Linked DNA regions of Homo sapiens. The protein of the gene in region 2 interacts with the protein of the main gene of each other region in a biochemical or structural test. Each region holds a gene or a part of one and is shown on either strand. Other genes may lie near its edges. The genes, in order: SKP2, PAX8 and NFIX.

Region 1 (3,650 bases), on a different chromosome or scaffold from region 2:
TTGGAGGCCAAAATGGATTTCTGTCTGGGCAAGAAAGATACAAAAGTGTGCCACTCTCTTAAGGATATCTTATCTACAGTCCACCTTTTTAATGATAGATTTGTCACACAAATCACACTGACAATTTTTTTATGATGAAGTTATTTCATAACTCTGGCCAGTGGTCCACTTATTTCAAGCACTATTAAAAAAGAAAATTCTAGTACACCTAAGCATTTAAAATGTTCCTTCATGTGCTTATATTTCACATTTTCTTTTTTTAAATTGAATTAAACTATGGATATTAAAACCCTCTTACTGTGCTATTCAGTACGTTTTTAGAACATCCCTTTTGTTTTAGAAACACCATCTATAATCCGTTGTATTTTTCCCTTATTTCACATTAGTTCATACACACACATATGTACACATACATATACACGTGTATGTTTTAAGCTTCAAATATATTATAAGGCACAGCTGAACCATGACTGTTGCTATTGAATATCTATGACAGCCTTATTTCATAATAAAATAATGCTAACTTTCGTTCCTTTAGTAATTTTCCATGTTGCTACAGTAATCATAATTGCTTGACAAAAGTGTCAAATAGATTTAAAACTTCTTAGAGGATCCTATTTGCCTAGTAATATAATAATTAATTGATTTGAGCAATCATTTTTTAAATTTGTCAACTTGAATGCTGGAATATGATTCTCTGGTTCTAGATCACGGCAGTGCTAATGTTCACATTGAACCATCTAAATTGGAAGTATATAGAAAGAGAAAGATGGAAGCTTATCCCTGGTGAAATCAAGAAAAATTCTCTAGTGCCTTAAAAATATCATAGCTAATTGTATAGCCAACTTAAAAACAAAAGTTCTTTTAGAATATGCTTCAAGGAGATTTAGCAGCAGTGTCCTACCTGTTAGTAATGTTGTTGAGGGCTTCCAGCATTTAGTGTGACCGACTGGCCAAATTAAGTATCTCCTCTTTTATAGGTCTGATGAGTCTCTATGGCAGACCTTAGACCTCACAGGTAAAAATCTGCACCCGGATGTGACTGGTCGGTTGCTGTCTCAAGGGGTGATTGCCTTCCGCTGCCCACGATCATTTATGGACCAACCATTGGCTGAACATTTCAGGTAAAGATGAAAAATCCCTGGAAAAGACTATTTCTAAATTTCGAGGTAGAAACAGATCAAAGCTTTTTTTTTTTTTTTCTTTCTTCAGCCTTAAAGCCTATGGTAGGTTATCTGTGCAGTGTGGGATGTTAATTCCATACTTTGCTATGGGGCCTTTGTGCTAAAACCTAGCATAGATTTCAATGACACTGTTCCCATTTCACTCAAGTTTACTGTTAGTCTCTTCCCAGGGTGAAAGAGGCACATTTGTCTTCTCAAGTCCTCAGCTGATAGGGGGACTGTGAGTCCCACAAGGCAGGCACAAGTAAAGCACTCACTGGCAGATGCAAGGGTGCCCAGTTACTTCCCCAATGCCCATTTCTGATAAATAAAAAAAAGTGAGGAGTCTTTTCATGTTTGTAGCTTGGGGTTTATGATTTTTGTCTTGGAGAAATTTGGAACCTGAAAAAAATGCCCTCTTTTTGTTTGTTTTGTAGAATATTTTGAAAAAGAATTTTCTGTTCTGATAATTTTGCAATACTGAGGTTACTGCTATCACATAGTAGAATAACTAGGTACTGAACAGAAAAACAAGCTGAAGACAACAAAGCTAAAGATAAAACATGTCTCCTGACTCCAGTACTTTTTCCCTTCTTTCCGTAGTCAGGACCGCCTCTCCCACTGCTTTTTATCCTGTTCCTCCTGTGGCTGTTCCTTCTCAGTCTCCTTCACATATGTGATTTCCTCTGTTCACTCCAGGGTCGGTTCCTGGCTGCCACCTTTTTCAAATCCAAATGCTGTCCCTGGACAAGCTGTGTCCTCTACACCCACATTTATGCCCAGGACTCTCAGTTCCTCATCTATAGCTTGGCCCTCCCTTTCAAATTCCCAAATTTCTAATTACCTAAAAACGTCTGTACCTGAATTTCTTACAAGGACTTCAATATTAGCATAACTCAAATTTGGCCTCCCTTTTTTTTTATTGTTTTTGTTTTTTGAGACGGAGTCTTGCTGTGTCACCCAGGCTGGAGTGCAGTGGCGTGATCTCGGCTCATTGCAACCTCTGCCTGCCAGGTTCAAGCAATTCTGCCTCAGCCTCTCGAGCACCTGGGGACTACAGGTGTGCGCCACCACGCCCAACTAATTTTTTGTATTTTTAGTAGAGACTGGGTTTCACCATGCTGGCCAGGCTGGTCTTGATATCCTGACATCGTGATCCACTGGACTCAGCCTTTCAAAGTGTTGTGATTACAGGCGTGAGCCACTGCGCCCAGCCTGGTCTCCCTTTAAAACTTTCTCTTCCGCTACCTTCCCTGTTCTATTGCTGCTCACCCACTCACCCCTGCCAGAAACCAGGAGCCGTTATGGTCTTAATCTCCTTGTCACCCACATCCAGCTCATTGTTGTGATGCCCACTCGTTATTTTCTAAGTGGGACTATATTGGCAGCAACATCTGTACTTGGCAAAAATCCTCTTGCATTTTAAAATGAATGAAGATGGGAATACACTAGTAGCAATATGTTTTATGACCCTATAGTTAATGCTTGAAGTATGTATTTAGAGTCTTGTTTGTGATTGGCTGCTCATTTGGGGAGAAGAGGGGTCTGGTTTGAAATTGGATGTACCCGTGAGAGCCACCTATGGAGCTCCTTTTTTCTCTCCGTGTTTAGCCCTTTTCGTGTACAGCACATGGACCTATCGAACTCAGTTATAGAAGTGTCCACCCTCCACGGCATACTGTCTCAGTGTTCCAAGTTGCAGAATCTAAGCCTGGAAGGCCTGCGGCTTTCGGATCCCATTGTCAAGTGAGTGGCAGGCAGAGTGTCACAAAGGCAGTTGATTTTATGTGTATGAATTTTTTTCCCTGTATATAACTGGGGTGCCCTTCTAGCCATATCCAGGTGGATACAGAAAATATCTAGTGCAGTGCTCTAGCTTCTGCAAAACTTTTCAGGACTCATTGAAGCAACAAAAGCTTGAATGCTAACTATATGCCAGGCCCTGTGCTAGGTTCTAGAGATACAAGTACAAGGATGAACAATGCATGTGTATTATTTGGGAAGAAAATGAATGCTCTAAAACTTTTCCCACCTTGTTAGTGAATGCTGGTTAAGCTATAGTTTACCTTCTTGCAAGAGGAAACATTGAGCAAGACATGTCTATTTTCTCTTGCAAGAAGGTAAACTATTTATGAGCAAGACAGATAATTACCATGCAGTGTGTTTATTAAATGTTTCAGTGAATATGTGGCAACACACGAGGAGCCGCCTTGTTAGAGGAAGTGACTCTTGAGTATTGAAGATATCTAGGTAGGAGATCTCTAGGTAATAAGACAAAGCAACCAGTCTAGGTAAAACTTCCTGTGTGGTTCTAAACTCTTACGTAGTTGGAAGTTGCTGGAGCACAGGACTAAGGGAGGAGAGTGACAAGGTGAGGAGAGTCAGGGACCAGATTGTAATGGGCCCCTACGCCTTGCTGTAAGAAGAATGGACTGGACTCTTCCATTAAGAGGGAAGCATGGGCCAGGTGTGGTGGCTCACACCTGT
Region 2 (3,650 bases):
ACGCCAGAACCCTACCATGTTTGCCTGGGAGATCCGAGACCGGCTCCTGGCTGAGGGCGTCTGTGACAATGACACTGTGCCCAGTGTCAGCTCCATTAATAGGTAAGAGAGAAAGCAGCCTCTGGTGTCAGGCTGGGGCCCCTGGGCTTTGGGGAAATCAGGAAAGAGACAAGAAAGGCCTGGCTTGGGTGGAGCAGAGGCCGGGAAGGGGCCTGATGCTGAACAATCAGGCAGGGAGCACACCTGGCTCCAGGCAGATATCATACCTCCCTGCCTCCTCCCTTGCCCCATGCTATGGGGCACCCTCCCCCTGGCCCCCAGCCATAGTGTGCTATCTACAGTTTCCTTCCTCAAACACCACATCTGCTTTCATTCAATAAAAGAATCTTCATGAATTGATCCTTTTCTAAGCCATCAGACCCCTAACCCAGCCCACATTCAAGCATTCATTCGTTTAGTCCCTCAATGATTCACTCACTGCCTCAATCAATCATTTACTTACTCACTCGCTTGTTCATTAATTCATTCACACATAATTCACTCATTCATTTTGTGCTAGGCCCTGGGACACACAAAGCCCATCTTTGCGGAGCTTACAGTCTAATGAGAACACAGATATTAATCAACTACCTACAAAAAATATTGTAAAAATGCAGCTGTAAGTCCTGCTAAGAAAAGGAACATGAAGATATGCAAGGTAGCACAGGATTATTTGGTTTATGAAGTTCATGAAAGTCTTCCCTTGAGTAAAAAACAATAAGAGAACTAGGTGAAAAGAGCTCAGACAGTTATGCAAAGGCCCTGTGGCTAATAGGATCAAAAGAAAACCAGTAGATAGGCCAGGTGCAGTGGCTCATGCCTGTAATCCCAGCACTTTGGGAGGCCAAGGCAGGTGGATCACCTGAGATCAGGCGTTCGAGACCAACCTGGCCAACATGGTGAAACCCCATCTCTTCTAAAAATGCAAAAATTAACTGGGTGTGGTGGCGAGTGCCTGTAATCCTAGCTACTTGGGAGACTGAAGCAGGAAAACCACTTGAACATGGGAGGCAGAGGTTGCAGTGAGCTGAGATCACGCCACTGGACTCCAGCCTGGGCGACAAGAGCAAGACTCTATCTCAAAAAAAAAAAGAAAGAAAGAAAAGAAAACCAGTAGATAAAGAGCAGGGGAGCACAAGGTAGGCTGAAGTTGAAGATGTCAGCAGAGGTGACCTTTCAGAGGCTGGGGGCTGTGTTATATCTTCTTGCCTTTGGTCATAAAGCAATGGGAAACCCTTGGCAGATTTTAAGCCAACTTGCATTTCAGAAAGTCCACTCTGGCTGCAGTAGGGAGAATCACTTAGAAAGGGCCAAGAGGGGATGGGCGTGGGCCACTGAGTGACCCTGGAACACTGGTGATGACATGCACTAAGGTGCTGATGGAGAGACGCAGAGAGGGGTCAACGTTGGCAAGGTTCACAAGGTCAAAACACAGAACTTGATGATGGGTTTGATAGGAAAGAGAGGGAAGCAGAGGTTAAGCCCCATCTCTGTTTTGGCCTTGAGTGACTGATGGTACCAATCATGAAATGCGGACAACTGAGGAGGACTAGGCATGCGGAGTAGGGTCACAGACTTGACTGTGGACAGTTGAGTTTCAAGTGCCTTGGAGATACCCAAAAGGGGTGTCAAAAAGGCGACTGGGTCTGGGGCAGCCATGAGTTCTCTTTCCTCCTCTTCTCTCTCATGGCCTTTCTTCTCTTCATCACAGAATCATCCGGACCAAAGTGCAGCAACCATTCAACCTCCCTATGGACAGCTGCGTGGCCACCAAGTCCCTGAGTCCCGGACACACGCTGAGTGAGTGCTGAGAGACCTGGATACACACACATGCTCGTGTACACCTCCCCTTCAGCATACCCACATATACACAGAGGCACACACAGACACACCCACACAGACATAGCTGTGCACAGTACCATTCACAAACCCATGTGTAGACTGAGTTGTGCCACTGCGACGAAGTCTGGCCTGTTCCCAGGGCAGATTCACTGAACTATGGAGAGGTGCAAACACTTGAGACAGCTCTAACTCCAAGAATCCCTCCCACCAGGAGGCCCCCTGGAGGAAGGACCTGAGCCCCTCCAGGGCTCAGTCCATGGTTCGGCTTGCTGCCTCCTGCACAGTGTCAGCAGGGACTGTGAGGGGTGTCACTCTCACTCCCTGACCCTCTCCCTCTTCCCACCACCGCAGTCCCCCCAGAGTCACCCCAGGGCTGTAAGGGGTGTCCCACCCCTTGCTCCTCTCCCTCTCCCCCAGCCCCTGCAGTCCCCAGCTCAACTGTAACTACCCCAGAGTCACCCAGGGCTGTGAGGGGTGTCACTCCCACCCCTGACCCTCTCCCTCTCCCCCACTGCAGTCCCCAGCTCAGCTGTAACTCCCCCGGAGTCACCCCAGTCGGATTCCCTGGGCTCCACCTACTCCATCAATGGGCTCCTGGGCATCGCTCAGCCTGGCAGCGACAAGAGGAAAATGGATGACAGTGAGTGCTGGGACAGGAGGGCAGCGGGCGGTGCACGAGAGCAGTTTGCTCAGGCTTTGATGGGGACAGAAACCCTTCCACTTATGATATGGGACTTTGTAGGGGCTCTGCATGTGACTGTCACATGTCCTGTCCCTCAGTTGGCCAAGGCTCCTGGGCCCACGTGGCTGGCCCTTTTTCTCCCTCCACAGTGAGTCAGCTTGGAGTCAGTCCTCTACTTTGGCCTAGAGCATGAATAGATAGGTCCCCTAAAAGCTTTCTTCCTTCCCGGGGGGTACCAGGTGATCAGGATAGCTGCCGACTAAGCATTGACTCACAGAGCAGCAGCAGCGGACCCCGAAAGCACCTTCGCACGGATGCCTTCAGCCAGCACCACCTCGAGCCGCTCGAGTGCCCATTTGAGCGGCAGCACTACCCAGAGGCCTATGCCTCCCCCAGCCACACCAAAGGCGAGCAGGTGAGAAGCTGGGCCCTGGGAGGTGAACAGGGTGGGCAAGGGCCAGAGAAGGTCTATTCTCCAAATGAGCCTGTGCTCCATCAAAGCAGCTGGAAGTTGCATCAATGGGCTCAGGGCACCTGCCTTATGCAACTCCAAGCCTGACACATGCTTTATTTTACCAGATGCCCTGGCATCTTCCTCCCTTTCTAACCCTCCTGGCTTCCTTCACCCAAAACCTTTGAGCCTGGGCCTTTCAGGGATGGCAGCACAACCTGATGATGCTATCCCTTGCCATCAGCGTCTTTCCCAGATTGCAACATCACGTTCCACAACTCTGAAGCAGTAGCACAAAGCCTTCACATAATGACCTCAGCCACTATTTCCTAGCCCCACCTTTGGCCACTCATCCTGCACACCCCATGCTCTTGCATTACTCATGGCCCCGAGCTCACCACCCTCGCTCACACCTCTCTGCCCTTGCACACTGTGTGCCCTCCACACAGAATGCCTTTCCTCCCACTTCTCTGCATGGAAAAATACCACTAGCCTTCATGACTCAGCCAAACATCACCCTCTCCGTCAGTCCTCCCCTGCCCCTCCGACATGAATCATCTCTCCTGCCTCTTGCCCTTCTGCATGTCCCACATGCTGCTCTCAGTAGCTTCTCACAGTGTCACTTAATAATCTAGC
Region 3 (3,650 bases), on a different chromosome or scaffold from region 2:
TAAATTGGGCGTAGCTGAGTGGAGGCTAAAAATTAACCAGCCATCTCTGTTTCAATTTGTAAGAAAACAAAAGCGGAAAGAAATTATAAAAAGGGAAAGGGTAAGGGAAAAAAGGAACAGAGGAGGAGAACTAAACCACCCTGACCCAAAATGCAGGGTAAAACTGGAAAAGCGAAGAGAAGCAGAACTACTTGGAACACAAAAGGAAAAGGAGATTTTACAGAGTTTTTTTTTTTTTTGGTTTGTTTGTTTGCTTGTTTAAGACCTCTTCCACAGCAACGCTGCTCCCTGCCATGCCTGTGCCCCGAGAAAGCCTCTCTGCTCCCCAGTGCCAGGGCTGTGGGCATCCATCCTGAGGCCTTGCCACTTTAGCTGAAATAAGGAGAAGGGAAAGAGCTCAAGGAATCTCGTCCTTGTTTTCACTCTCTATGAAATCAAATTACTTTCATACTGACAGCCAAATCCCAGCCAAAACAGCTCCCGCCTGAGTATTTAGGCCACAGAATCTGCCCACTACTGTCTTCTCTCCTCTTTTCTGTTCATTCAGTCTCATATCCCAGGGTTTCACATGCCCCTTCTCTCCACCGGACTCCTGCCCATCCCGCTTGTACCAAACCCAGTTTTTCCTGGGACTGGAGGTGAAGCTGCAGTAAAACTAGCACCTGCCCCTCAATACTTCTTCTGACTCATTTTAATAAGAGCAATTACTGGTTTGCTGTTGTTGTTCATCTCAAACTCTCACCATCATGGATAATTCTGGGGGCATCATGTCCCCAATCCTAAGACCTGCAGCATCTTTCTGATCAGATAAGTCCTCCAAAGATGGAGATGCACAAAGTCGATACCATGGCCAGGGGGCAGAGGAGGAAGAATAGAACAGGTCGGGGGAGACAGAAGACAGGAAAAAGGAAAAGGGCCCATAGAACCGTGTTGCAGGCCCCGCAGGACGGGCATACACCAGTTAGGCCCATGGCGAGTTATCGCTTGGAAATTAGAGGAACAATAAACAGAACAAATGCCAGCAAGGAAAATAAAATGAGAGGGAAAAATGGTTGAGAACGACCTACCCGGAGTGTGGACAAAGTAAGCCAGATAAAGATCCAGTTCTTTGATTGTGACTCCAATGTGATGTGGCTGGACGCACAGGCCGGGGTTCGAGCACTGAGGCGACTTGTAGAGCCGCTCCCCATCAGTACTTTCCAGGGGGATCCCCTTAAACAAAATCACCATGACCAGGTCCAGCCGCCACACCTTGTCAGCCTGGCGCAGGCAGTCAATCCGCCGGATCTTGCCCTTCTGGTCGGGGTTGGAGAGCACGCAGCAGGGGGGCTTCTTGCCCGTGATGGTCAGCACGAAGTCCTCGCGGAACTCGGGCCGGATGTCCTTGCGCAGCTTGGCCAGCAGCCGGGATGCCCACTTCTGCTTGATCTCGGGCTTCTCGCCCAGCAGCTCGTCCTTCACCGCCCGCTCCTCGTCCTTCGACATCCGCTTTTCATGCTTCTTGAAGTACTTGCGCTTCCGCGCCTGCAGGTTGAACCAGGTGTAGGAGAAAGCGCGGACGTGAGGCAGCAGTGCCTCGATGAACGGGTGGAACTCATCCTGCAGGCGGCAAGCCGGGAGCATGCGGGGCGAGGGAGGACGGGAGGAGGGGAAGACGGGATGAGGGGGAAAGAGAGAAGGAGAAAAGCAGCGTTAGAAGGGGGGGCACAAGGAAAACCGCCTTCTCCTCCTCCTCCCTCCCCCCAACAATTTTCTCTTGCGATTGTTCTACGAAAGTGTGGTTTGAAGCCACCACCAGCTTCGCCAGCCACTTGCTCCCATCTCAGCCTCAGCAGCCAGACAGAGGCACCGGGAGCCTCTACACACACCTATTCTCTCTCTCTCTCCCTCACTCACTCACACACACGCGCACAGACAACGTTGCCGTCCACACACACACGCTGCTGGTATCCCCGCCAGGCTCTGTCGCGCCCATGACATCTCCATGTTCTATCGCAGCCGTGAACTCCTGTCAGCTCGCCCCGGCACAGTGTCCGTCTGCACAGACGCCCGTGGACGCACACGCGGGGGCGTGCGGGGCCGCCTCTGGTCCCCGACACCGGTCGATTTTTGGCCGCCCCCAAGAAGACAGAAAATGACATCCACGAGCAAGCGAGTGAGGAAACAGATCAGGCTTCCCTCTCCCCAGGCTGTTTTCATTTTCTTTTCTCCTGATCCAGTTGGAACATCCACCCCAACATTTTTTAATCAGACCTAAATCCTAAATATGTGATTTCAGCTTTGTTATCGACACCAATACTAATGTTAATCACAGTAATAATGAACAAAACACTTCTTGTTAGCACAAATAAGGTGCTTGTCTCGGCCACATTAGGGTTAAAAGCTACATGGGTCTTCTTGCGACCCCTTCCCCAGCCTCCCACAACCCCTTCACCCTTTTTCCCACTCAGTCAGGTGACAGAAGGATGGGCTCTCTCGGTTTTGTTTGGTTTTTTTTTTTTTTTTTGGTTGTTTGCTTGTTTGAAGTTTAAATAATAATTGATTTCTGTTTACAAAAATAAAACTGGAAAAAATTAAATAATTACCATTGATCTGAAGCACCCGGCAAAGCCCAACGCCCGATTCTGAGATTCTGGACTCAAAAGAGTTGTGAGTTGGGGGCGGGTGGGGGGAGGGGGGAGGAGGAGGAGCAGGGGAGGAAGGTAAATGTTTTAAAGGGGGTTATTATTGGTGTTCTGGGGAATAGGGGCCGGGCTTGGGTGGATTCTCAAACCCTTCCCCCTCCTCCCCCCCCCCATGCTCCATTGCACAGAAGGGGGAAATTAATATTTTTTTTGAAAAGGAGCAAAAAGAAAGAAAGGTCAGGGATAGCAAGCAGAGAGAGGGAGCGAGCCGGCTGCCACACACGCCAGGTAAACAAAAGCCAACAAAATTTTTTTTTCAATTTCTTCCCCTGTGCATCCTCTTCCAGTTTAAAAAAAAAAAAAAAGAAAAAAATGCAAAATTTAAAAATCAAAACCAGCCTCCCACCATCTCCCCACAACCAACAACGCACCCCACCCCACCCCCGTGCAAAACAAAAACAAAAACAAAACCCAGGAGGGAAAAAGCGGCAGCTGAAGAAAAAGGCTTTCGGCTTTGGCAGCGGCACAGGGGTGTAAACTTCGAGCTGCCTGATCGGAGGAAAAGGGGGAGCTCGCAGATTCCCGGGGAAGAGGACGAGTTCTGACCGGCTGCAGACCGTTGCTGGCAGACGCGTGCAAAAGAGAGAGAGGGAGCGAGGGAGGGAGGAAAGGAAGAAGGGGGGGAGGGAGAGATCGAGGATCGAGGGAGGACGTGGATGGGATGGGGCGTGTGTGTGAGTGTGCGCGTGTGTGTGCGCACTGGTTGGGTTTTTGGGGTGTTTTTTTTTTTTGCTCCTTTTCTCTCTCTCAAACTCCCTCTCTCTCTCTCCTTTCAGGCTCAATCCCCATCCATTTGCTTGTGCCAAGCCAGTAAAAAGGGGTGGGGGGAGAAAGAGACAGAGAGAGAGAGAGAGAGAGAGAGAGAAAGAGAGAGAAGGATCCACCTATTTGGCAAAGAGACATCCACGAGCAGCCAATGGCTGCGTCCAAGGGGAGGAGGGAACCGGGCGAGCAGGGAGGGTGGGG

What was found.
Region 1: the proteins of PAX8 (region 2) and SKP2 form a complex in vitro, tested with the Homo sapiens proteins (one study listed by BioGRID).
Region 3: the proteins of PAX8 (region 2) and NFIX form a complex in vitro, tested with the Homo sapiens proteins (one study listed by BioGRID).

Annotation. Positions count from the first base shown.
Region 1 is NC_000005.10:36,165,539-36,169,188, forward strand, and holds part of SKP2 (S-phase kinase-associated protein 2), read left to right. Parts: intron 1-980; coding exon 981-1,124; intron 1,125-2,774; coding exon 2,775-2,909; intron 2,910-3,650. UniProt on the Homo sapiens protein: Substrate recognition component of a SCF (SKP1-CUL1-F-box protein) E3 ubiquitin-protein ligase complex which mediates the ubiquitination and subsequent proteasomal degradation of target proteins involved in cell cycle progression, signal transduction and transcription.
Region 2 is NC_000002.12:113,240,879-113,244,528, reverse strand, and holds part of PAX8 (paired box protein Pax-8), read left to right. Parts: coding exon 1-102; intron 103-1,750; coding exon 1,751-1,839; intron 1,840-2,398; coding exon 2,399-2,521; intron 2,522-2,802; coding exon 2,803-2,978; intron 2,979-3,650. UniProt on the Homo sapiens protein: Transcription factor for the thyroid-specific expression of the genes exclusively expressed in the thyroid cell type, maintaining the functional differentiation of such cells.
Region 3 is NC_000019.10:13,022,970-13,026,619, reverse strand, and holds part of NFIX (nuclear factor 1 X-type), read right to left. Parts: intron 2,649-3,650; exon of another isoform or gene 2,589-2,648; coding exon of another isoform or gene 2,586-2,588; intron 2,042-2,585; exon of another isoform or gene 1,987-2,041; coding exon of another isoform or gene 1,901-1,986; intron 1,842-1,900; exon of another isoform or gene 1,624-1,841; coding exon of another isoform or gene 1,600-1,623; coding exon 1,068-1,599; intron 1-1,067.